7 linked regions of the Homo sapiens genome follow. The protein of the gene in region 5 interacts with the protein of the main gene of each other region in a pairwise test. Each region holds a gene or a part of one and is shown on either strand. Other genes may lie near its edges. The genes, in order: PLEKHN1, C11orf87, ARRDC3, KIF1B, WWOX, GNE and PAX9.

The links.
Region 1: the proteins of WWOX (region 5) and PLEKHN1 interact in binary tests that used the Homo sapiens proteins (3 or more experiments, as listed by UniProt).
Region 2: the proteins of WWOX (region 5) and C11orf87 interact in binary tests that used the Homo sapiens proteins (3 or more experiments, as listed by UniProt).
Region 3: the proteins of WWOX (region 5) and ARRDC3 interact in binary tests that used the Homo sapiens proteins (3 or more experiments, as listed by UniProt).
Region 4: the proteins of WWOX (region 5) and KIF1B interact in binary tests that used the Homo sapiens proteins (3 or more experiments, as listed by UniProt).
Region 6: the proteins of WWOX (region 5) and GNE interact in binary tests that used the Homo sapiens proteins (3 or more experiments, as listed by UniProt).
Region 7: the proteins of WWOX (region 5) and PAX9 interact in binary tests that used the Homo sapiens proteins (3 or more experiments, as listed by UniProt).

What each region holds. Positions count from the first base shown.
Region 1 is NC_000001.11:965,056-969,281, forward strand, and holds the start of PLEKHN1 (pleckstrin homology domain-containing family N member 1), read left to right. Parts: upstream 1-1,426; 5' UTR 1,427-1,476; coding exon 1,477-1,559; intron 1,560-1,648; coding exon 1,649-1,748; intron 1,749-4,226. Other genes in the region: KLHL17 (kelch-like protein 17), read left to right, coding at 1-136. UniProt on the Homo sapiens protein: Controls the stability of the leptin mRNA harboring an AU-rich element (ARE) in its 3' UTR, in cooperation with the RNA stabilizer ELAVL1.
Region 2 is NC_000011.10:109,421,032-109,424,989, reverse strand, and holds the start of C11orf87 (uncharacterized protein C11orf87 precursor), read right to left. Parts: upstream 2,801-3,958; 5' UTR 2,727-2,800; intron 2,553-2,726; exon of another isoform or gene 2,423-2,552; intron 2,212-2,422; exon of another isoform or gene 2,123-2,211; coding exon of another isoform or gene 1,941-2,122; intron 1,616-1,940; coding exon of another isoform or gene 1,357-1,615; coding exon 763-1,356; 3' UTR 1-762.
Region 3 is NC_000005.10:91,376,818-91,380,317, reverse strand, and holds part of ARRDC3 (arrestin domain-containing protein 3), read left to right. Parts: intron 1-220; exon of another isoform or gene 221-870; intron 871-1,542; coding exon 1,543-1,624; intron 1,625-3,500. UniProt on the Homo sapiens protein: Adapter protein that plays a role in regulating cell-surface expression of adrenergic receptors and probably also other G protein-coupled receptors.
Region 4 is NC_000001.11:10,374,570-10,378,069, reverse strand, and holds part of KIF1B (kinesin-like protein KIF1B), read right to left. Parts: intron 3,217-3,500; coding exon 3,024-3,216; intron 2,816-3,023; coding exon 2,697-2,815; intron 1,526-2,696; coding exon 1,483-1,525; 3' UTR 1-1,482. UniProt on the Homo sapiens protein: Has a plus-end-directed microtubule motor activity and functions as a motor for transport of vesicles and organelles along microtubules.
Region 5 is NC_000016.10:78,113,154-78,116,653, forward strand, and holds part of WWOX (WW domain-containing oxidoreductase), read left to right. Parts: intron 1-1,822; coding exon 1,823-2,001; intron 2,002-3,500. UniProt on the Homo sapiens protein: Putative oxidoreductase. Acts as a tumor suppressor and plays a role in apoptosis. Required for normal bone development. May function synergistically with p53/TP53 to control genotoxic stress-induced cell death.
Region 6 is NC_000009.12:36,241,449-36,244,948, reverse strand, and holds part of GNE (bifunctional UDP-N-acetylglucosamine 2-epimerase/N-acetylmannosamine kinase), read left to right. Parts: intron 1-3,500. UniProt on the Homo sapiens protein: Bifunctional enzyme that possesses both UDP-N-acetylglucosamine 2-epimerase and N-acetylmannosamine kinase activities, and serves as the initiator of the biosynthetic pathway leading to the production of N-acetylneuraminic acid (NeuAc), a critical precursor in the synthesis of sialic acids.
Region 7 is NC_000014.9:36,671,860-36,675,359, forward strand, and holds part of PAX9 (paired box protein Pax-9), read left to right. Parts: intron 1-3,500. UniProt on the Homo sapiens protein: Transcription factor required for normal development of thymus, parathyroid glands, ultimobranchial bodies, teeth, skeletal elements of skull and larynx as well as distal limbs.

The sequences.
Region 1 (4,226 bases), on a different chromosome or scaffold from region 5:
CCCGAGGACCAACAAGTGGGTGGCCGCATCCTGCATGTTCACCCGGCGCAGCAGTGTGGGTGTGGCGGTGCTGGAGCTGCTCAATTTCCCGCCGCCATCCTCCCCGACGCTGTCCGTGTCCTCCACCAGCCTCTGACCCACCTACCACCAGAGGCCTGCAGCCTCCCACATGCCTTAAGGGGACCGTGGCCCCCACCAGGGACGTCCTGCGCCATCCGTTCACGTCTCTGCATCCATTCCTTCATGTCTTTATTTAGTTGTTTATTTATTTAGTTATTTATCTTATTTATTGAGGGGTGAGGAGTGCCACGGCTGCCCGTTTACACCTTTAGCGTCTGGTCCTCCTGCGTGTCCTCCCCTCCACTGCCTGCATGGGGGGCGCGGGGAGTGACCAGGCGGGGGCCTCACCGCCCCAGGGCCGTTGCCTGCTCAGACCTTGCAGGCTGTGGAGCAAGAGGCCCTGGGTCTCTCCAAGCAGCTGCAGACCCCAGCTCGAATTTTGCACATGGCGGGGTCCCGGGAAGGGTGGGGAGCAGTTGTCCTTCCTGTCGTCGTCTGCCGTGTGCCATCTTTCCTGGATCTTGTAGTGGGTGCACACGCGTGCACTGGGACCCCACACAGCAATACGAGTCCAACTTAATAAACACATTTCTGGGGTTCCTCAGGCTGAGCATCTCTCTCTGGCATGTGGGGCAGCTGCGCAACTTTGGGTCCTGTCTGGGGTCCAGGGTGAGGGGTGTGGGGGGGTGCCCTGAGATGCGCAGGCATCTGGGAGCTGCAAGGCAGAGCTGTGCGTCCAGGGAGGGTGGGGGCCGTGCAGTTCCTGTGGACCAGCGTCCCAGTGTGGGTGGCGTTTGCCTGGGCTGGGTACTGAGGCCGAGGTCCCCGCCACATCGTGGGCTCTGGGGTTAGGGCTGGGGAGGACAGCCTTGCCCCCGAGTGCGCTGACTGTCTTGGCCGTCTAGGGGGCATGTGGCCTCCCTGAGTCCCCTTAAGCCTTGGGGACCCTGACTCGGGTCTGTGGCGAGGGGGCCCAGGCAGGAGGGGAGGCTGCGGTGGCTTTGGCCGCCGTCTCCTGTGCTGGAACTCCTGCCTCAGCCCTCCCTGCAGTCACCGGTGACTCGGGCCGGCCAGAGTTTAGATGGAAACAGGATGTGTGGGCACGTTGTCCCGGGGGGCCTGGAAGGTCGCCCCGGGTTCACCAAGCCGGAGCACAAGCAGGTGGGGTACCTCTGCACACTGGAGGCCTCGTCTGGGCCAGAGGGGTGCTTGCCCCAAGGCTGGCCTCTCGAGTGGAGGGCCCAGGGCAGAGACCTGCACGGCTCAGGTAGGGGCCAGGCCTCTTCCAGAAAGGCTCCACCCTCGCCCAGGCCCTGGTGCCGGGCGGGACGTCCCGGAGCCCCGCCTGCCCGCGGGAGGCGGGGGCAGGAGGCTGTGGACAGGGACCCAGACTTGCCGACCTGTACGACTCTGGCCATGGGGAACAGCCACTGTGTCCCTCAGGCCCCCAGGAGGCTCCGGGCCTCCTTCTCCAGAAAGCCCTCGCTGAAGGGAAACAGGTGAGCGGGGCGTGGGTGCGGCCACCTGGGCGCAGGGCTCCCCCACCCGCTCCGGGGCCAAGCCACGAGACCCCTTGCCTTGTCCCCAGAGAGGACAGCGCGCGGATGTCGGCCGGCCTGCCGGGCCCCGAGGCTGCTCGAAGCGGGGACGCCGCCGCCAACAAGCTCTTCCACTACATCCCGGGCACGGTGAGCGCGGCGTGCACGGTGGCTGTGGTCTGGGAGCGTGGCTCTGCCCGCGCGTGTGTGCCGTGTGTCCGTGCAGCTCAGGGTCTTCCCCTCGCCCCCGGGGCGTTCAGACCCCGGTAGGTGAGGAGCCGACGCTGACTGCCCCGCCCTGGGGAGCTCATCCGGCCGAAAGTCTGAGCGGAGAGCGAAACCGCGACGCAGGACTGAGTCAGTCGGGAGAGAGCTGGGCGGGGCGGGCCGCGGGCGGGGCCTCCCGGGACCTCCTCCCGCAGGGGACCAGCGCACGTGTCTCTGTCGCTGCAGTGGGGCTTGGGGTCGTGCCGGCAGGTAGTGTCACTTGAGAGTAAGGGGCCTCAGATGAGCAGCGAGCCAGCCGGTCACCTACACCGGCCTTTCTCCCTGGGTGTCCCGCAGGAAGTTGCCGCTGGGTATGGCCGCCTGGTCCACAGCAATCCCTCTGTGCACGCGCCGGCCTCCTCCCAGCTTGCCAAGGCCATGCAGCAAGGAGGTGTCTCCCAAGCACACACTAGGCCACCTCTCCGTCAAAGGAGCAGAAGACCACCCCCATGCCCACCCCCCCCCCAGCCCCTGTGGGACTAAGGGTCTTCACAGGGTAGATCCCAGCCCCTTTCAGATGTGTCTGGTGCTGGGATGAGGGAACAGGACCAGGAACCTGGGCTTCAGGGCAGACAGGAACCCCCACTGCACCCCCGTCAGGCAGCCTGGATGGGTGGGCTCCGCTATGTGCAGGCCCTAGGAGCATCTGCGGGAGAGGACGCCTGCCCTGCACTCCTGGGTCCAGCAGCTGGCATGGCCGTGCAGACCCCTTTGCCAACATGCCCCCGCCAGGCAGGAAGCTCGTGCCATACCCTCTCCTGACCTCCAGAGTTTCAGGGCTCCCTGCAGACAAGTACTGGTTTCGGAAACCACGCTGCCTCAGAGGAGTGGGCAGGGAGAGGGAGCCGGGCTGGGTTAGGGGTGGGGTCCCTGTGGCTGCATCTCAGACACCACTCCCTCTGTCCAGGCCCAGGACATGCAGTGTGACCCTGGGGGGTCCTATGAGGTGTGGTGGGTGGCCGTAGTGGTCCTCCCTTGCCAGGACATGGTAGCCACAGAGGCAACAACCTGCTGAACCTCGGGAAATGGGGCTGGGGGAGGAGCTCTGGGCCAGTCCTAGAGCCAGTGCTCCGCGGCCCTGTACCTGGGCTCTGCACCCAGTGCTGTGAGCTGGCTCTACTACGGCTCCAAGCTGAGTCCTCCCCGGGGCCCCGAGGCTGAGCTGCGCTGCAGGGCCAGCTGTGTGGCCCTTCCTGGTCTGTGGCCTATTTTTCATGGGTGCCAACCCGGCATCAGTTCCCACGCTGGGTGTGGGTACAGGAGGCCCCACCCAGAGGCAGAAGGCCGGGAAAGCCATGCGTCTGTCTGTTCACATTCCTGGGCCTGCTCAGGGGCAGCTAAGCTTGGCCAGGGCACAGCAGCTCTGCAGGTAGCTCTCGCCAGCTCCTAGAAGGAGGAGGACACCTTCCCACTTGGCCCTGAGCCTGTGGATCACAGAGGTCTCCAGCCCCAGGTTCACACCCGTCCCTTTTCTGACTTCCAACCTGGTGATCAAAGCCTGCATTTGTAGAGGACTGTGTGTGCCAGGATTGACTACATGTGGCGTGGATGTGGAGTCCCCTCCCCTCTCAGCACATGCAGTGATACCCACAGCACATCCCAGGCCCTGTCTTAGGCTCTGGGGACACAGCAGTGAACGGAATAGACAACCCCTGTTCTGCTAGTGCTCCCATTCCCACGGCAGAGACACACGACGGGACAAATCAATAGATCCAGTGAGCGGGGTCAGGTCGGTGCTAAGGAGAAAAACAGAGGGGATGAGTGCAGAGGATCAGGGAAGGCTGGAATTTTAGAAAGGCTTTCAGAAAAGGAATTCTTGGAGCAGGTAATGTCTGAGCAAAGCTGCAAAGCGGGTAAGGAGGGGGGTCAGGACTGAGCGGTCCCCAAAGCAGGAACAGAACATGCAGCAGCCAGAGAGCATGGGTCTGATGTGAGGAGACAGTGAGGCCGGGGCAGCCACAGAGACCCCTCGGGGGAGACCCCTCGGGGCACTGCCAGGACCCCGTTGTCCCCTGAGTGAGGCATACGGAGCGGCCAACACACAGAGGATCGACCCCAGAAATCTCCTCACATATTTCAGGCTGGGGGCTGGAAATGGGCAACGGTGAGGACACTGACACCGAGGAGATTGGCAAACGTTACAAATCAGGGCATCGGTGTGTTTCTGTGTCTGTTTTTTGTAGAACCAGGTGTTAAGCATTTACCATACAATACTGCAGACGTGGGAGGGTTTTGAGTGTTACCCAGACACCCCCAAATTCTTCTAACAAGTCTTCAGAGGTTGAATAACCCAAGCCATGTTACACAGCTTAGGAAAGAATGAAGATGGGTTTAATCCACTGAGTCCAGATCTCACCATCT
Region 2 (3,958 bases), on a different chromosome or scaffold from region 5:
TTAAAGATTTTAACGTACTTATGCTCGGCCAGCGAGGGTCATTTTAAAAAGTAAATTAAATGCTCTGTCCTGGAAAATGTAATGGTTAACCAAAGGGTGAGAAATGGGCGGACTGGCGAGGGGTACCTGTCATAAACACTTTCCGGGGACTATTCTCTATGGCCTCTTGCAGTCCTGGTGCTTAATGTAGACATTTTCTTTATAATATACTATTGCCTGAGCCCGGCTGAGGGTGGGAATGGGGAGGAAAGGGAAGCTAAAGGAAAAGTGAAAGCTTAGGGGTCAGAGGGGAAGGAAGGAAACTAAATCTTAACTTGACAGCTATGTACATTACCGGGCCCCCTCCCCTCCCTTTGCTCCGGGAATCAATGCCTTTTATATATTTGGTAGCTTGTGCGGTTTCTCCTCCTAATTGAGGGGAGCGCGGGGTGGAATGGGAAGATGCATCCTCCATTGACAGTTAGAAATTATGTGATTTGTCATGCGCTTGGATTGTGTTATTAGTATTATAATAATTACTATAAATATTAATAAAGTATTATTATCAGCGTTATTTCTTCTTCCGAGACTTTCCTCGCCCAATATTTACAAATACCGCACAGTGCCTCGGCGGAGGAGAAACAAGAGTAAGGGGAGGGCAGGTAAGGAAACCAGGAAGAGGAAAGAGGGGCCAGAGGAAAATGGAAAAGGAAGGAAGAAGGAAAAAAGCAAGGGTGGCAAAGATGCTGGAAACGAGGACGGGGAACGAGAGGGGCTAGACGATCAGGACAGTACCACCGTTTGCAAAAGGCCCTCGCCAGCTGTGTCCAAACAGGAGGAAGCTGCGTGTGCTCCTTGGGGACTGGAGGCTGGCGGTGGAGGCGGAGGAGCACAGGGACCCTGGCACGGGAGGCCAGGGGACGAAGAGGACAACGACGAGGCGTTGGAAGGGGCGCAGAAGGGAGAGTCCCGGGGCTGCCTCTCCAGCCGGGTTTCCTTTGCGTGGGTTGGGGCCTGCCTGCCAGGTCGGGGCAGCCCCCCGCCACCGCGGCTGCCGCTGCAGTGATCCCGCTCATATTCCTCCTGAGCCCTCTGCATCTTCCGCTTCTTCATCCTACGCTTGTGGATGTGGAAAGTGGAGAGGGACAGCACGATGAGGCAGAAGATGAGGGTAACCAGGACAATCAGCACCAGCGTGGAGGAGAAGGACTGGAAGAGCTGCTGTCCCACCTGCGTGATGCAGGTGCCGCTGCCTACTGCGCCTGGGCCGCGGGCACCCGTGTTGCCGCTGCCGCTGGCGTTGGGGGAAGCAAAGGTCCGGTTGAGGAGACACGGCGGCAACGCCAGCCTCAGCTCCTTCGGCGCCCTGGCACTCATTGGCGCGGGGCTGGGAGGGGCCAGGCCCACTAGGCTTCCCCTCTTGGGCACACCGTTCCTACCAGCCAAGAAGAGGACGGAGCCCACGCCACCCAAAACTGCTCCCTGTAGCGGGAGGGGGTGTGCGAGCGAGCCAAGGACTAAGGGAGCAACTGCTGGCAAGCAAGGCGACCAAGGAGTGAGCGGCGCCCGAGAGATCCTCGCCGATACCACCTCGAACACGTCTCCACGCTCCCCTTTCCTTTGCAGAGGCACCAGGCTGCAAAGACACAAAGCTTAGTTAGAATCTCGGCCGCTGCCCAGGGGAGTGCTGTCGGGAAAGATCAACCACCACCGCAAAGCGGCCCTCTGGGCACACTGCCTGAGCTGGGCGCTGCCTGTATTTTCGGTCAGCGGACCCCAGCCTGCCGGCCCGTGGCCGTGCACCAGAGCCACCAGCAGCCTGCTCATGCCACTCGACAGGATGGGGTCTGCGCCGGCACCGCGGAGGTGCAGATTACTCAGCAGATAAGGCAGCCTCCCTTCCGCCCTTCACAACTTTATAATTGCAACAGACACGCAGCCGCTTTGGTTGAAGTCCCTACTTCCCAGAGCGCCGGCTCTCCTCTTTTCTGCGCCCTCTCGGTTGATGTCTTCGCCTGGATCCTACCCTTCCCAGCACCCACTCCGGGCCGCCGCGCGGGCTCCGGGTACGCAGTCCTCCCTTCCTTTCCCTCCCCGTCCAGACTCGCCCTCCCTGGACAGCGTCAGATCCCTTGGGTCCCATTCCCAGGGGGATACCCCTGGCACCACATCCCACTCTGCCTCTGTCCGCGACCGCGGCTGACGCGCAGGAACGCGCTCCATCTCTTCTCCAGCCTTCTTCCCTGGTATTCTCCCCTCTCCAAAAAAAAAAAAAAAAAAAAAAAAAAGCAGCTGAAGCATCTTTCTCAGCTGACACATTCCCACAAACGGCCCCCTCCTCCCCATTTCCCTGTGCCCCCAACTTGGCAGTAGCCTGCTTCTTTCTAGAGGAGCTGGAATGGAAAGGGGAGGGTTCCCGCCTGCAAAGTTTGGGGAACGGGACCTTCTTTCTGTCCTTCCCAGACCCAGCCCAAAGGCCCCGAGGCTTTTCCGGCATACTGGAGCCGGTAGACCCGCAGCGCACAGGAGAGCCTCCTTGCTGCTCCCAAGAGGCAGCTGCAAACTGTTGCACTGCGGAGTAGCGAGGTAGCGCGCAAGCAAGCCAGGGCAGGGGCCGGGGGCAGGGGCGGGGGCTGGAGCTATGGCCAGGGGTGGCTGCTCAGGCCGCGTGAGCTGTCCTCCCCACTCGCACCTGGCCGTCAGGCCACCCGGCCATCAGAAGCCTTTACTCACACCTTGTCTCTTACCTGGACCGCCGGCTGGCTGCAAGGAGGGAGCCCCCGCCGCGCGGCTGCAGTGGCGGCTGCAGAAAGCGTGGAGTGAATGGACCAGAGACCGAGCCGCGCTGCTGCCGCCGCCGCCGCCGCCGCCGCCGCCTTCGCCGCCGCTTCAGGGAGCTGAGCTCGCAGCCTATTGCCAGAGAGGCCGGTGACGTCAGGCAGCCACCGCCAGGGCTCCAAGCCACCCCTCAGGCCCCCACCCACCCTAGTACCCCAACACCTTGTCCTAGCATAGCGAGCCTCTGACACACACTTCCCAGTTCCCTGCCCTTCTCCAGCCCAGGAACTAGGAGGAGCAACCCCTACCTCCACCCTGCAAGCAACCCACCTTTCTCACTCTCTTGCCTAGGAAGAGTTGAATCTTCAGTTCTCCAGCTGTCTGATTTCGTTCTAGAGCTGACCCTTTGGTCCCAGAATCACATTTTTACACTCTGGATAGCCATCTACCATCGGTGCACACATCACCGGTGGTGATGAAAATTTCCCCCACCGCTAATTCCTCTCTGTGCTGCCCGTTTCTGAACATAAACTGCGTGCATTAGAGAGATGGCAGGGACGTTTCTCAACATAAGTGTGACAGAACCCAAAACACAAACCTGAACAAATTAAACAATCCAAATTAGCCATTTTTCTCCACTGGAGTTTCCAAGTTATCTTTCGCTCCATCTGATTCAAGATCCTCCTTCTTGCATCCCTCACATCTTCATCTCCAGGCCCCAGACCCACTCAATGTATTAAACACTCCTTCTATTCTGACAATCTAGACACTCATGAGCACACAAACCCTAGTCTTACAAGGAAGAAATATGAAATTATTCACAGGAAGGCAGAAATGAACTGCCTTATGAAAATTCCAAGTATTTGTAGCTTGCACAAAGTACCCCTTCATTGACCCTAATTCTTGGTAAAGTGTTTGGAGCACAACTTTTAGCAAAATACATAGAACTTCCAGAAAAGAATTCAACAGCCTCCCTAAATCTTGGAAGAGACTAGTTAACTATTGGTTTAGGAGCCTTGGAAAAATATGAATAGTGCATTTGGTTACAGAATCCAGCTTTGAAATGGAGTATGCTCATTTTTCTGTTGGAGAAGCTAGCTGGGAACAGTACCTAAAGACATTGCATGGTCTTTGAAGGCACTCAGGTGTCTTACTAAACGTGCGTTTTCTTCTTTGCTCCCTGTCTTCTTTTCTATCTTTG
Region 3 (3,500 bases), on a different chromosome or scaffold from region 5:
CCCGGCCAGCAGGCTAGGTTGCGCGGGCACGGGCGCGAGCGCCGCGCGACGTATGCCGTATGTATAGCGGGGCGCGCGGGCGGCAGCGGCGGCGGCGGCGGCGCGCGGGCAGGCCGGCTGGGATCTGCTCGCGCCGGTTTAGGCCGGTCCTCTCCTGCTCCGGTCTAGTTCTTGATTGACAGCCCGGCACTTGTTTACCACGGCGCGGCCGCCGCCGCTCGCTTCAATGAGACTGCTGAGCTGGCACAAAAAGGGAGCGAAGAGGGAAGAAAGGGAAAGGAAGGCGAACTTCGGGCGCCTTCGAGGGGAGCGAATTTAAATGGCCCCCAGCTCATCAGCTAGTTTTTGGTTCTGAAATCCGTTCAGGGGAATTTGCACAGGGGACGAGGAAAATTGTATGGAGACATAAGCGAATCACCATGATTTTTAAATGAAAGTATCGACGTATACATGCTTTTTTCCCCCTTTTTCTCGTTTAATATCAGGGAGGCATCACGTTTTTTGTGTATATCCAATACTTTGCTGAAGGAAAGTTAAATAATGTGCCAGTTTTTTCTACTCTGGGGGCTAATCGTAAAGGTTTCTACACCAAGAAAACTTTAAAAGATATTTCTGTAATTATTTAAAACGCTAAATAGGCACTTTAATGATCTAGAACCCCCTCCCATATTTTCGATTATATTTATTTTCATGCCACTTGAAAAAAAATAATTTCACCAAAAAAATTGGTTGTAAAATGAAAGGTCATCCCTTTTTTATAGAAACTGGAAACTATTAATAGTTAGACTTCATTTTTTTCAAGGATGTTGGAAAATATTGTTTCCTTATAAGCCGACACCACCTAAATGCGGTTCTTTGTAATTATCTAAGGTATAGTTTATGCAAGTTTTAGTCGTTGCTAGGACCAACTGAGTGTTGTGATCATTTTAGATCAATAAATAATTATTTTTAGTTCAATAAATAATTATTTTTAGTTATAAATCTGACATTAAAATCAATGTGTGGCTTTTTTTTTTTTTTTTTTTACTCCGTCTATTTGACAAGGTTTTCTAGTGGTTTTGGAGTATCTATTCTATTCACATCTGGTATTATTATTCCCTATAAACTGACATATTTTAAGAGGGTTGCATGAACAGTTTTTCTTTGATACATTATAGTCTTAATGTGATAAATTTAAGCAAACCGTTGGAGACAAAGGATAGCATTGTCTTACCATGATGTGAGACCCGAGCCTTTTGAGTATATATACTATTTTATAAACAGATGCTTTGCAGTTTGGGTCATTTTCCATTAGAAAAAATAAAAAGCCTGTGGGGTGTGAGTATTCATTATCCCCATTTTACAGATAAGGCAGCTGACGACAGGATTTTTATTTTGTCCAGAGGAAATGATGAAGTTAGAATTAGAACTCAGATCTCTCAGACTCCAAAGCTTGTTTTGTGGTCTTAATTGTTATGTAAGCATCTTTAAAGTTATGCCACCCTGCGGAGTATGTAAATGTTGAATAATAAATTCTTTGTTTTCTTTTTATGTTTGTTTTAGATGATGATAATTCCGAAGAAGGCTTCCACACTATTCATTCAGGAAGGCATGAATATGCATTCAGCTTCGAGCTTCCACAGACGTAAGTATTATAAATAATAGGCATTTTTATAGATACTTATGATCAGAGCATTATTTTAAAATTAAGTATTCTAAATTTAAACATTTTTAGTTGAAAAAAAAACCCTTTTCATTACTGAAACTTGCTAGAGGAAAACAATATATTAAACATAAGAAGCTATTTTTTAATCTAGCGTGGCAAAATTATAGAAAGCATACTCAATTTTCAGTATTCTTTCCTAAAGTTTATGAGGTTTTTAAAATAGGAATAGGGTTTCCTTTAACATGAGTGAATTGGAAGTTGCTAGTCGAATAATAACCACTTTATACTTAGTTTATTATCAATTATCATTATGAGAAAAGATAGACCCTATCAAGTCTTAGTAGCTTCAATTTATAAAAAATTCTATATTCTACTTTTTCTGCTAATACTAACCAATAGCAGTAAGTTTCGAAAATAAAAATAATTAGGAATATCCTAACTTTAGAAATGTTTTTCTTCTGATATGAACTTAATAGCTTCTGTACAAAGAACTATTGGGAAGGTCACACAAGAGATATGACCCAGGCTTAAAAGGAAACATGCATCAAGGATACATTAATATAAAACTTGGAATCTAGTAAGAAAGGAAAAAGGAAAGTGGTATATTCTTAAAGTAATGACAGATTGTTGGAAGAGATGATACAAACTTTTTAAAAAAAAATGCCTTTTAACAAATATTAAAACCTGCAAAATGGCACTTGTGGTGATTATTCTGGAGAATAAACAGATTACATAAGATTTTGTCAGGTGACAAATGTACATTAATTCTGCATTTGTTAATTCTAGTGCTTGAGATGTTATATATAGAGAGAGAAGTCATAAATGGTATTTTTTAGAAAATTCTATTTACTGTATTATTTGAGAATTTTATTTGGAATATAATGCCCTCATCTAATTTCTGAGAAAAATATTAAAGTCTGTTGATAGAATAAGGCCAATATGGGGCCTGAGTATTTTCAGCGTCATTTAATGTTAAAGTTCTATCCATAAACCAAAGTCATTTAACATAAATTTTGGATAACTATTAGCATACAGTTTAAGATTTTATTTCTCTGCTATACAAGTTAATGTGGGAGTCTAAAATGCAAAAAAAAAAAAAAATTATGAAAACACCAGTGTTTCTTATGCTAATCTAAGCTAGCACTCTTGTAAATAACTGAACATTGAGTATTTTACTAATGAAATTATGAAAAAGATACTGAACTTGCTAAAATAAAACCTTCCACAAGTAAAATCTGACAGAGTTAAAAAAAATTTTTTTTTATTCTCTTGACATAGATCAAGAGGACTATATCTTTTTCTTTTGAAGCCCGTAAAGTTAGAGAACAGCCAAACAAGAATTAGAACATGAGTAAACTGAGAGATACAAAAGTAGTTTTTCAGTAAACTTAGGAAATGTGAAATTTTTGAAACTATAATGACTATTCCAGGCCTTTTCTAGACCTTAGTTAGTTGCTATTAAAAGATGATAATTCCCGGCTAATGAGAAGTGGAGTACTATAGGGAATTTGGTCTGAATGTTTAACCAGTGTCTAGAATTTATCAGTAGAAATAGTTAAACCATTCTCAACTTTGTGTTTGAATTCTTGGCCTTTTCAAAAAATGCCCATTAAACTTTCATGATTTTGCCACCATCATTAAAAGTAGCCTCCTCTTAGTTTAAATGGATTGTATTCTTCTGGCTTTTTAAAGCAAAATTTTAAAGATATTTATTGTTTATTCTTAGTTGGAAATAGGAAGTTTTTTCCCCAGTGACTTATCCCTTTGGAAATTTTTTAAATTATATGTTTGATACCTCATTGGAACATAAACAATACAATATATTAACACTTCTATTCTGACCTACTGTGTAATT
Region 4 (3,500 bases), on a different chromosome or scaffold from region 5:
AGCATCAATGAAAACAACTGCTGGATTCAGAGGGAGACTTCCAGGTTTATGCCTGAAAGCTATATTTCTTTGATCAAAGGGAGCTGTAACAATCACAAGGTCACTACCCAGCATTATTATTTTTTTTTTTTTCTGAGGCAGAGTCTTGCTCTGTCACCCAGGCTGGAGTGCAATAGCGCGATCTTGGCTCACTGCAACCTCTGCCTCCTGGGTTCAAGCAGTTCTCCTGCCTCAGGCTCCCAAGCAGCTGGAATTACAGGCATGTGCCACCATACCCGACTAATTTTGTATTTTTAGTAGAGACGGGGTTTCATCATATTGGCCAGGCTGGTCTTGAACTCCTGATCTCGTGATCTGCCCGCCTCGGCCTCCCCAAGTGCTTGGATTACAGGCGTGAGCCACTGTGCCCGGCCTGCCCGGCATTATCTTAATCATAACAATGACCATCAAGTTTATCACCAGAAAGTGAAACACTCCCGCCTTGTGGAACATTTGTGTATGACATGGCACTAATTCCAACTGTACCACCACCATCACTAATGCCAAAAGCAGAACTGAGACACTCCTAGAAAAGAGCTTCCCTCCCAACAGAGAAAAAACAGTGGGCAGGAATCCTGCTGTGAGGAGCTACAAGCATCCCACCGCCTGCTGCCATCACGGCCCACGGCCAAACCCTGGGGTCCCCTGAAGTCCACCAGAAGCATCCTTGGCATTTCCCTTCACACAAAGTCAAGAGCAGCCACTGTCCCAGGCCCACTGAAAAAGCCTCTCGTCTCCTCTCTACCAGTAAATAAAAATTCCATAATTATGCCGTAAAAAGCCCCAACTTTGACTCAGAATATAACTGTTGCAGTTCTATGCTCACTACCACCTTTTCCCTGAATGGAAATGCAGGGATTAGCCATGGCAAAAAGAGACAGAGGGGAAAAAAAGACTCTTTTTTTCCTCTCAGGTTCTAAAAAGGCCAGATGTCTCCTCCCTTAGTCTCTAAGCCACCCAAGAAAAATTAAAGTGATATCACAAACAGAGAAAAGAAAAAAAAAGTATGTTGTCTTGAAAAACAAAGGTGCCTGGTGACAGCAGCACAGACATCAGAGGTGGTCATGATGGGGACCTATCATACAAAAGGAAGCCAAAGTACACCCACAATAATTTGGAGATTCACCAGATCCCCTCAGAGTTTTTGTGTTTTTGTCTGTGTATGTGTGTGTGTGTGTGTGTGTGTGTGTGTGTGTTTAAAAACATTTTTTCCTTTTGTTAGGCCACATGCTACTAACGAGATTCTCAGCACAAGAAAAAAGAAAAGAGTACAGAGCAATGGAGATGGGGAACGGGAGAGCTAGAAAAGTGCTGGACAAGGAGGGAGAAGTAGTTAAGCCACAGGATTACATACAAGAGTCACCGTCAAGAATCACAAAGAGAAATGAGAGGTAACGCTTTCTTTATCTCTCGAAGGCGAGTGAGGGCACTCGGCAGAGTCACTTAGTATTTCGACTGGCTCGGGCATCTGCGGGAAAGCTTTGACCTATGGGGGACAAACGGGGAGGTAGGATTAGAAGTCTGGGTACAAGTCTTGTCCCCTCACAGTCCTCTCCCTCTGAGGCTCCCTCCTGGAGCATCTTCCTATTTGGCACCGCAGGCCTAGTCCTCTAAGCCGTCTACTCCGGGACCCTGTGACACAAGCCCTCAGAACGTGAGGCTGAATCACAGGGCTGGAGGTTGGGAGACCATTAAGGTTCTCACTGTCCTCCCTTTACTCTCTCCCCTGAGCCCCATCTTTAGAACTCTTGAGAACAAAAAGACAAAGAAGGAAAATAATTGGTGCACATGTGTGACCAGAGTATCCCTGGTGGTTCAGAACATGACAATGCCTTACAAGATGCAGAGGCCTCATTACCACCCCACAACCAATTTACACTCCTGTCCTTCCTCTCTTTTAAATTTATTTTGAAAAATACTTCCTTTCAAGCCAGATGTGGTGGCTCACGCTTGTAATCCCAGCACTTTGGGAGGCCGAGGAGGGTGGATCACCTGAGGTCAGGAGTTCAAGACCAGCCTGGCCAACATGGTGAAACCCCATCTCTACTAAAAATACAAAAAAAAAAATTAGCTGGGTGTGGTGGCGGGCACCTGTAATCCTAGCTACTCAGGAGACTGAGGCAGGAGAATGGCTTGAACCTGGGAGGTGGAGGTTGCGGTGAGCCGATATCATGCCACTGCACTCCAGCCTGGGCCACACAAGAGCAAAAACTCCATCTCAAAAAAAAAAAAAAAAAAAAAAAACAAGAAAAGAAAAAAGAAAAGAAAAATTCTTCCTTTCCTATTTATCCTGATATTCCTGAAGCCAAAAGCCAAAGAGAGAAAGAAAACACAGAACAACTTCTAGGCTGGGTGCAGTGGCTCAGGCCTGTAATCCCAGCACTTTGGGAGGCTGAGGTGGGTGGATTACTTGAGGTCAGGAGTTTGAGACCAGCCTGGCCATTGTGGTAAAACCCCGTCTCTACAAAAAATACGAAAATTAGCCAGGCAATGGTGGCACGTGCCTGTAGTCTCAGCTACTGGGGAGGCTGAGTCAGGAGAATCGCTTGAACCAGGGGGCGGAGGTTGCAGTGAGCCAAGACCAAGCCACTGCACTTCAGGGAGAAAAAGTGAGACTCCGTCTCAAAAACAACAACAACAACAACAAAACTTCTTACCGTATTGTGCCAGCTAGAAGTGGGTTGAAGGCATACAACCAGTCGTTCATGTCTTTGTCATTGAGGGCCTGCAAAAGGACCCCACGGTGCTTTGTGCAGACAGCAAAGGTGTTTGGTGTCTGAAAGAAAAATGCAGGTAGACAAGAAAGTTACTACAGAGACAGCAATGGGGACTGCCTTGCCATATTCCCAAGGCATATAGCACTTCACAAAGGAAGTTCAAAACCAGAGAGAATAGGGAAATTTCACACCACGTAACAGAGAGTGCAGAAATCAAAAGAGAAGGGCACACGTGGCAATAAGAAACCAAGGCAGGGCAGGACGGACCTTCACCATGGCCTGCTGGTCCTCACTGTACTCCACCTGTGCTGTGGACAGGTTAATGATTCCACGCTCCACAGGGTCTTTGTCACTGTTATAGATGAAGACATAAGGCCGACGGACGACAACAAAATGTTTAGCCCAGTTACTGTAAAGAGGCTCCTTGAAATGAAGGTATCCTTTCTTAGAGACCACTGAGCTAAAAACGACAATATGACAAAAGTTAGTTTCTCACAAAAAGAAAATAATCGTGCTGAGGACCATCAAAATACGCCACACTTAGGCCAAGTCCTTAGATTCGATGAAACAGGCAAATGACCTATTTGGCCTAGAATCTTATCTGCCAAAGTAATACGGCAAAAGCGAAACCGTGCCATGGCAACATGCTGCGCCAGGGTGCAGATGCATTATGAGACCCAACTGGAGAAACCCAGGCTGGCCCTCTCACCCCAGACTCAACTTGCATCAGACTACAGTACAGAT
Region 5 (3,500 bases):
TAATATCACCTGGGAATTCAATAAAAATGTACATTCCCAGGCCCCCACCCCAGACCTACTGAATCAGCACTGGGGTGGGGCTTGCAATCTGCGCTCTAATAGTCATCCAGGGGATCCTGATGTTCCCTAGCTTGAGAGCCTCCCGTCTAGAGCAGGGGCTGTCTCCTTTGCCTGTAAAGGGCTAGATAATATGTTTTAGGATTTGCAGGGCATATGGTTTCTGTTGCAATGATTCAACTCTGCCTTTGTAGTGCTAAAGCAGCTATACACAATATACAAGTGATGGGCGTTGTTGTGTTCCAATAAAACTTTATTTACAGAAACAGGCAGTGGGCCAGATTTGGCCAGCTCCTGGTCTAATCTAGAGGAGTAAGCAAGGGCTTTGGGGGGAACCTGGAAATTGGCTCCCCTGGCTAGTTCTCACTTTTCTGAGCCTGTTGCAGTGGGGTGCTGGTAAATGTTTAGCACCAGGTCTTCAGGGGGAAAAAAGCCACTGTTTGTTTCCACAGTATAAATACTTTGGCCATAGCTGATTTCATGCTGCCAAGGTGAAGTGAGGAATTGGGAAGAGATAGTCACGTTTGGCTCTTGTAAGCCAGTTTGAGCCAGTCTAGCATAGAACTGCTCTGTTGTGTGTGTATAATATTGGGGTCACAAATTAAGGTTGTTATAAATAGAATGAGGATGAGGATGGTAATAATTAGAATAAAGGTTGGATTATTACTCTTGAGTCTTGGTACTTATAGGGAGATGAGTATATATTTTAAACTAATTTTACACACACATACTTTTAAAATATGAAATTTCATCTATATTTAGAGGCTTCTTAATAGTTTTTAAGATATTCTGAGGTCTTTATCTCATATCCCAAGAATACATTTAAGATATAAAAAGTAAATTCTATTATAAGGAGTACTCTTTTCATCCATATGTGCCTTTTTTTTTTTTTTTTTTTTAATGGTTACCCAGGGTCTTGGTCTGTCACCCAGGCTAGAGTGCAGTGGCACAATCATGGCTCACTGCAGCTTTGATCTCTTAGGCTCACGTGATCATCCTCCTACCTCAGCCTCCCAAGTAGCTGCGACTACAGGCGTGTGCTATCACACTTGAAATTTTGTTTAGTGTTTGTAGAGATGAGGTCTAACTATGTTGCCCAGGCTGGTCTTGAACTCCTGGGCTCAAGTGGTCCTCTTGCCTTGGCCTCCCAAATTGCCGAGATTACAGGCGTGAGCCACTGTGCCCAGCCTCCAGTATATTTTAATACCATTTCTACAAGATTTAGATCAATTCCAAATCAAAATGAGTGCTCGTAGGAGGTATGAGTGCAGAGTCTTAAAATGAAAATCGTTAGAATTTTGGTAGTTGGCAGGTTTCTTATTTACAACTAAGACTTTATCATTTTGAGTTTTCTACTTCTCTACGTCTTTAGGCCCTTGCACAGGGCTAAGAGATTTAATTGAAATCTACTGAAAAGAGTGGCTGACAGATCTTATAGCTACATTTACATGAATTACATAAAAGCCCAAAACCTTCTCAAGAAGCCTTTTTTGAGATCTAAGGATACATGGCAATAGTTATTGTATGTTACAGCGTATGTTATAGGCAGTTCTGAAGGAAAGGATTCGATGACTATCTTTTTTTGGCACAAATGTGATCCTTCTGGAGGCCAGAAGATAGATTCAGTGGGCCCCAGTTCTTTCAGGTTTAAGGAATAAGCATTTTGGTCTATGAAAAATGGGGTTTTCCTAAAGTATAAGATTGTCTTATATTTATAAATGCCTGTGTTCATTGCTGTGGGTTCACTGCTTTCTCTTTTGGGCAGCCATATAAATAAAAGAACCACCTACTTGGACCCAAGACTGGCGTTTACTGTGGATGATAATCCGACCAAGCCAACCACCCGGCAAAGATACGACGGCAGCACCACTGCCATGGAAATTCTCCAGGGCCGGGATTTCACTGGCAAAGTGGTTGTGGTCACTGGAGCTAATTCAGGAATAGGTAGGCTCTTCACTTAGTTATTTATCTTTGGGACTGCTATAATGAGATCCACTTAGATCTAGCTATAATGGAATTTTGTTTAGTGGTTCTCTGATTTAAACATGACTTTTATCCTTTTCAGATATCGTTTCATTAACATCACTACCTCTTTTTAAATCCTAATGTTGTCATGGAAGCCTGTGTAGGGGCTGACCTTGAAGTCTCTGAAAGCTGAACACTCAGCAAAAGACTGTGGCTATTTTGGTATTCAGGGATGAGAGACAACAGGCTCCGTCTAAGAGTTTTTGACCTGGTCTGCATGGTGTATGGGCATATTCCAATTACCTGGGTTATTCAAACCAAAATTGATTGGTAATAGAATACGGGGAACAACAAGGTATTATGTCTTTGGAACAAAGGATACTACAGGTTTCGACTGGTCACTGAGCATATCATTTTCTTTTGGGCACAGGATCTTATTTCTCTATAAAATTGGAGAATGAGTTCCTGTCTTCACCTCTTAATTGCCAATGTTTACCCACAGGGACTATCATGGGTAGATGGCTCAAGAGGGTATCCTTGCTTCAATATGATGGGCCATTAAGGAGACAGGAGCAAGGCGGGAGCAAACCATAACTCTTCATAGGATTTTATTCTGATTTTGCTTTGATCTATTTACATAAGTATCTGAATCAGTGAGAACCACCTGCTTTGAGTTTAGATATGCATCTTCAGATTTGTCGACATATGAAACGTTGCATTTGGCTGTCTTCTGTCAAGTTCTCTCTGTCCTTTTGGTCCCCCGCAGCCCTCACACGGCCCCCTTGATGCCCTCCTCTACTCATTTGTTTCTCTTTCCTAATTTTGTTTTTATTTTTATTTTTTGTGGGTATATAAAGGTGTCTATATTTATGGGGTTCATGAGATGTTTTGATACAGGGATGCAATGTGAAATAGTCACATCATGGAGAATGGGGTATCCATCCCCTCAAGAATTTATCCTTTGAGTGATAAACAATTCAGTTATACCCTTTTAGATATTTTACAATGTGCAATTAAGTTATTATTAACTATAATCAACTTGTTGTGCTATCAAATAGTAGGTCTTATTCTTTCTTTCTATCTTTTTTGTACCCATTAACCATCTGCACTTCTTTCTTAATTTTGAACAATTCCTTGAAGCTGCAGAAATATTTTCTAGCATGATTAGGGAGGCACAGGAGGTAAAAATACATTGTTCAAGGGTCAATTATTGTGTTGTACAAGGTGTGAAATCTACCAGGTTGCCATCCGAGTGGAGAATTTTTTTACTGTACTTGCCTATGAAGGTAAAGAAGCAAATGGAAATTTTTTTTTAAGAATTGAAAGGATTTTATTTCAAATCAACTCTCATACCTCATCCTGGGCTCCAAATATGTTCAATCCACTTGTCTGAACTTCTGCATTGGAGTAAATTTTATATAATTGTCATTGAAGTCAAAACTGATGGCGTAATATTTAAAACAATGGCTGGATCCCCA
Region 6 (3,500 bases), on a different chromosome or scaffold from region 5:
TTTTTTTTTGAGATGGAGTCTTACTCTGTTGCCTAGCCTGTAGTGCAGTGGCTCAGTCTCGGCTCACTGCAACCTCCACTTCCCGGGTTCAAGCGATTCTCCTGCCTCAGCCTCCTGAGTAGCTGGGGTTACAGGCGCACACCACCACACCTGGCTAATTTTTTTTTGTATTTTTAGTAGAGACGGGGTTTCACTATGTTGGTCAGGCTGGTCTCAAACTCCTGACCTCATAATCCGCCCACCTCGGCCTCCCAAAGTGCTGAGATTACAGGCATGAGCCACCGCGCCTGGCTCATTTTTATTTTTAATGCTTTTCTTATAGAATTGTTGGAATACTCAGATTATGAATGTTGGAAGCAGTAAGCCATAAGTACTTATTAATATAAGGGATTATGATGATTATTAAAAAGCAAAAGTCATAGTTGTAGCCTTAGAGTATATCTTTGTAAATAAGCCCTATGTTCCAAAATTTTTATTGTTCAGTGCTCTAGCTTCCTAGAAATTATCTTTTGCTAATCAGAGGTAAAAAAATCCAAGTTTACAAACAGAATGTCAGTTGGTTAATTTATAGTAAGAGTACTACCTAGGGGACAAATTAGGACTAATAATCTATTTAGGACCTTTCATTTCTAAGAGGCAGATCTATTGAATTATAAAATTAATGAACAGAAAATTGATTTGGTTGGGTCAGGTATGGTGGCTCACCCTGTAATCCCAGCACTTTGGGAGGCTGAAGTGGGAGTATTGCTTGAGCCTAGGAGTTACAAGGCCAGCCTGGGCAACATAGCAAGACGCTGTCTCTACAAAAAATAAGAAAATTAGCTGGGCGTGGTGCTGTGTGCATGTAGTCCTAGTTACCTGGGAGGCTGGGATGGGAGGGTCACTTGAGCCTGAGTAGTTGAGGCTACAGTGATCTGTGATTACACTGCTGCACTCTAGCCTGGGTGACAGAGTAAGACCCTGTCTCAAACAAAACAAAACAAAAAAAAACAAAAAACAATAACAAAAAAAAAACACAGAAAGAAAAAGAAAATTGAATAAGCAAAGAGATTTTGTATATTTTTAATCTAGATTACATTACATCAGGAAAGGAATTGGGCTTTCCTGCTATATAACGTACTCCATTCTACATATTTCTGTTGTTCAGTCTGGAGTGCAGTGGTGCAGTCTTGTCCTCCTGGGCTCAAGTGATCCTACCACCTCAGCCTCCTGAGTAGCTGGGACTACAGGCATGTACCACCATGCCCAGCTAATTTTTAAAATTTTTTTGTAGAGATGGGGTCTCACTATTTTGCCCAGGCTAGTCATGAATTCCTAGGCTCAAGCAATCCTCCTGCCTCGGCCTCCCAAACTGCTGGGTTTATAGGCATGAGCCACCGCACCTGGCCCATTCTAAATATTTCTTATGCTTGGACAGATTTGTAATTATCAAGGGATCGTCTAGATAATGCTGGTGGAACAACCTTCTGTCTCTTCAGTCTCTCCTTTTAGTATGCTTCCGATGAAACACTCTTGGATTCTGTTCTAATTATACCATTAGCTCTCTAGGTATTCTGGAAAACTTGTATCACTGAAAAACTTGTAATGAATAGAAAATAATAATGTGCCAGATGTGGTGGCACATGCCTGTAATCTCTGTACTTTGAGAGGCCAAAGTGGGCAGATCACTTGAGCCTAGGGGTTTGAGAACAGCCTGGGCAACGTGGTGAAACTCTGTCTTTACAAAAAATACAAAAATCAGCCGGGTGTGATGGTGTGTGCCTGTAGTCCCAGCTACTCCGGAGGCTGAAGTGGGAGGATTGCTTGAGTCTGGGAGTTCAAGACTGAAGTGAGCCATGATTGTGCCACTGCACTCCAGCCTCGGTGACAGAATAAGACCCTGTCTCAAAAAAACAAAACACTAGTTTTGGCCAGGTGCCAGTGGCTCATGCCTGTGACCCTAGCACTTTGGGAGGCCCAGGCAGGTGGATCACTTGAGGTCAGGAGTTGGAGACCAGCCTGGCCAACATGGTGAAACCCCATTTCTAGTAAAAATACAAAAATTAGCCAGGTGTGCTGGCACATGCCTGTACTCCCAGCTACTCAGGAGGCTGAGGCAGGAGAATTGCTTGAACCCAGGGAGGTTGCTGTGAGCCGAGATTGCACCACTGCACTCCACACTCCAGCCTGGGTGAAGAAGCGAGACTCCATCTCAAAAAAAAAAAAAAAAAAAAAAACAAGCATAAAACCCAGGCCAGATGCGGTGGCTCACACCTGTAATCCCAGCACTTTGGGAGGCCACGGCGGGCAGATCATGAGGTCAAGAGATTGAGACCATCCTGGCCAACATGGTGAAACCCCATCTCTACTAAAAATACAAAAATTAGCTGAGCATGGTGGCGCACACCTGTAGTCCCAGGTACTTGGGAGGCTGAGGCAGAAGAATTGCATGAAACCCAGGAGGCGGAGGCTGCAGTGAGCCGAGATCGCGCCACTGCACTCCAATCTGGCAACAGAGCGAGACTCCGTCTCAAAACAAAAAACAGCAAATAACCATTAGAAAGCAGAATGTAGCAAAATTGAATTGTACTTGTAGGGCTTAAAGTCCTATTTGGGACAATTTAAGCAGTTCTTTATGGAAAGAAGGACAACAGAACAGCTAAAATTGCTTTTTTTTTTTTTGGTCTTTAAACCAGTGAAAAAGAAAACTCAAGACAATGAGGCAGAGCCATCCACCACTGGGCAGTAATACATTTTATATAAAACCTGTTCCTGCTTCTTGATATGCAACTTCTTTTTTTTTTTCTTTTTTTTGAGACAGAGTCTTGCTCTGTTGCCAAGGCTGGAGTTCTGTCACCTAGGCTGGAGTGCATTAGCGCAGTCTCGACTCACTGCAACCTCTGCCTCCCAGGTTTAAGCAATACTCCTGCCTCAGCCTCCTGAGTAGCTGGGACTACAGGCGCACACCACCACACCTGGCTAATTTTTGTATTTTTAGTAGAGATGGGGCTTCATCATGTTCGCCAAGTTCGTCTCGAACTCCTGACCTCAGGTGATCCGCCCTCCTCAGCCCTCCAAACTGCTGGGATTATAGGCATGAGCTACCGCACCTGGCCTTAATATGGAACTTCTCATGCTATCACTCTGCTTACAGGAAGATAGGGTTGGGTAGGCCATATATAACATTGCAGCTTTGTAACCAGAGTGTTAATATATAACAATCTTAATTTTAAAATTAGCAATGTTAAAAAGGCATGTTAAATTCCTAATAATGAAAGGCATATCACAGTAAATATAGGACTTTACAACAGAAAACAAAATGCCTTTATGGAAAGGATTTATGAAAGGGCTGAGGCTGCTGAATTATGGATAGATACAAAGACTGGTAATAATATCAGAAGTGCCAGGTGGAGAAGCAGGTGCAAACTTTGTATGAAATGTATTCTTGCCAGGGATGAGTTGCTCTGGCTCATTGTCTTGCGTTTTACTTTTCCCTGGTCTAAAAAGACTTCTAGTTTTTG
Region 7 (3,500 bases), on a different chromosome or scaffold from region 5:
CAGTGTGATGAAGTTGGTCTTTTCCTAAAAGTATTAAAACAAAGCAGTAACTTACTTTTTCTAGGGTATGCAATTTAGTCTATTTTGCTTTGTATTAGTAAATCTCCTTCTCAAATTTAGGTAGAAGATAGTTTGCTATAGAGAGCACCCTTGCACAGTTCTTTCAGGGGAAAGAATTCTCATGCCTTTCATGGAAGATCCACATGAGAAAGGAGTTGATGGATTGAAGTCTTATTTATGGAATCTTTAGGTAAAGTCATTTTCAAAAATGAGATTTCCATTACATGCCCATTGCTGGGGTTTCATTTGGAAAATTTGTTTACTCTTCCCTGGGGATTCCGTATGTTGGTTGATTTATAAATCATATTTACAATCCAATTAAATAGAGTAATTTAGCATGTTTGCTCCCACTATATTTATAGTGTAGATTTGGTAGTCTCTACTCAGCCTAACTAGCTTTTCAGATTAATTACATGCCCTTCACTGAAAACATTAAACCGATTTGGGACGTTTAAGTCATGTACTCTTTTACTGGAAAGAATAAACAAACATCAATGCTACCTGTAGTTGTTTTCCTTTGCGGTGGAAAATTTTACTTTTTCAGTGATTGCTTCATAAATAACAATTACTTGACCCAGTAGAGATTTATATCTTTTACTAATGTTATGTGTCAAAATTAATAGTGAGAAAATTGATGTGTTTATTGAGTCACTAAAATGAATAAATAATGAAGGTGGCAGGAGGCAGGTAAATTTTAAAGCACATTTACTTGCTCCTTTTTTTTCTAAATTTATAAATCTGAGCTTCAAAAGTAAAAAGTAAAATTAAGACAAAACTCTCCAGACCCCCAAGCTAGGGTCATAATTTAACCTGAGAGAAAACTAAGGGCTATTTTTATACTGTTTAAGTTTAAAGATTTATGTTTGTTTTTTTTTTTAAGCAAACGTTTTAGCCTCTCCTTGCCTTTTTCTTTTTTCTTTCTTTCTTTCTTCCTTTTTTTTTTTTTTTTTTTTTTTTTTTTTTGAGATGAAGTCTCACTCTTGTTGCCCAGGCTGGAGTGCAATGATGCGATCTCGGCTCACTGCAACTTCCGACTCCCGGGTTCAAGCAATTTTCCTGCCTCAGACTCCCAAGTAGCTGGGATTACAGGCACCTGCCACCACACCCGGCTAATTTTTGCGTTTTTAGTAGAGACGGGGTTTCACTATGTTGGCCAGGCTGGTCTTGAACTCCTGACCTCAGGCAATCCGCCCGCCTCAGCCTGCCAAAGTGCTGGGATTACAGGCGTGAGCCACCGTGCCCGGCCGCCTTTTTCTATGAGATGAAATCAACCATCTCCGAGCTTCTCTTCCTACCCTGTCTTTCTGCAGTACAAAGGGATTGCATCACTAAAATGATACTAAATAAATATTGTGGATTTAAGAGAACTTTGAAATATTTAGTACTAAGAATAATGACATAAAGCAAGTTTGTGCATTAAGTATGAGAAGTTGGACAAACATGGAAAAATTTGCTCATTTTTTTACACTTGATAAATGAATGTAATCATGGAATAAATAAGGCACTAGAAGTTAATACAGGCCTAAATCCAATGTCCTGCCTGCCCCTAAATTCCAGGAACATTATCTAAGATAAAAGTTCAATGCAGCATGTCTCTGAGGGCCATCTTCCAAGTGGGTCCATGTAAGGGGACCATAGACATTGCAACAAAACAACTGAAGAGTCCAAGTAAATGGGGCAGATCAATGAGCAAGAGTTCCAAGGGCAAAGGTGTAAGAAAAGGGAAGATGACTAAGCAAGGATTTCAGAGAGAACTGTAATTTTGAATGATAGATAAAATACAAAGAAAAAAGAATGGGTAGGAAAAATTTAGCTGTGATGAAAAATAGAACTCGCCAACAGTTCTGTTCTGCTAACTAGAACATTGTTTCTGCCATGTATAATATTAAATTTTTTAACTTTATGTCCCTATATGATGTTGGCCAAAGATTTTTATTATTTTAGAAGTAATTTTAATGTTAGCATTCTTATTTCATTATTCTTAGTTCACATTGGCATCAGTAGTATAAAACATTAGTCAATGCTGGAAATGAAAATATTAGTTAACACCACATACAGATGTGAACACCTTTCCATAACTGAATTGGATTTATTTCTTTCCAAACTCATTTATCATAGATTATTGGGACAATTCTAAATAAAAATGATTAAAACTATAATCTCTATGCAAAACTAGATTTTTTCCCCTGTAATTTGATAGTTCTCTATCTTGATACCCATCTCCTGAGAGCCTTAAAGTGTGTCTCCTTTGAGACATAATCAGCCATTCTCAAAAAGTGGAAGAAACTATTCTTTTTTTAGAAGGGATCTGACAATGAGAATCATGTTCTAGGAGAGAAAAGAATTTGTTACCAGATGTTATCTCAAAAGATGCACTAGTTTTAAATTAAATTGCATCTATCTTTTAAGTGTTCAGGAAAAACAGTATGATATGCTACAGAGGACCCTGCATTGGGCAGGGGTGATAAATTTTTTTAACACATGGCCACTGGCTTGCCAATTGGTTGAGGGTACATGGCTAAACCTCTTAATCTATATCCTTGTATAAAAAGAGGATAAGATTTCATTTGTATTCAACAGTTATGTGCGGTAGTTTCTTGATTTAAAAAATGCAGCAGCATCATTCTCTGGGACCCTTAAAATACACTTTAATTTCAGTTGAACATTGTGTTGTATTTGTGACACACTATCTTGTAATTATGATAAACTCAATCATTTATAATGAACTATATAATTCATTAATACTCATTACTCAGTAAAATATGTTGGATATTTCTTGGTGCCTGGGACATAGGACACACTTAAGAAACTTTAGCTTCCTTTCTCTTTCCCTATTTTCAAAGAACCAACATTGAAAAACACAACATGAGGTGTTTGTTCTTACAGAGCATAGACACAAGGCTAACCCCTCTAATATTTTTCTTTTTTTGTCAGAAATGCATGAGTAATGTTGTCATACCCACGTATGTATTCTATTCCATGTACATATTCATTTACTCTGCATTGAGAAAATAGTTTTTGAGACCGCACCACTGCATTCTCATAGATGTAGAAGTGAAAACAATAGCCCAAATAAATTAAATTAGAAAGTAATTCCTGTGTTGCAATTGAACGGGAAAAAGTACCTAGCTAACATACATCTGATTAACTTAATTCTAAGGATTAAATCAATTTTCCTCATAAAATTCTAGTATTTACATCGTATTTTCACTAGGAAATATATTGAAATGGTAGTTCATTCATGTAACTATCAGGACACAGCATCTACACTTTATTTCTAAAGAGTATAAAAATTGAGGGGAAAAAATTAGACTACTTGAAGAAGGATGCCCAGTGTTCATGCCAGAATCAGGATTAAAAATCAGGGTGTTTTTAGTGTTGTTAATAGTAACGATACCAACAATAATTCACTGGATGCCAAGACAGCACTGGTTTCTCGG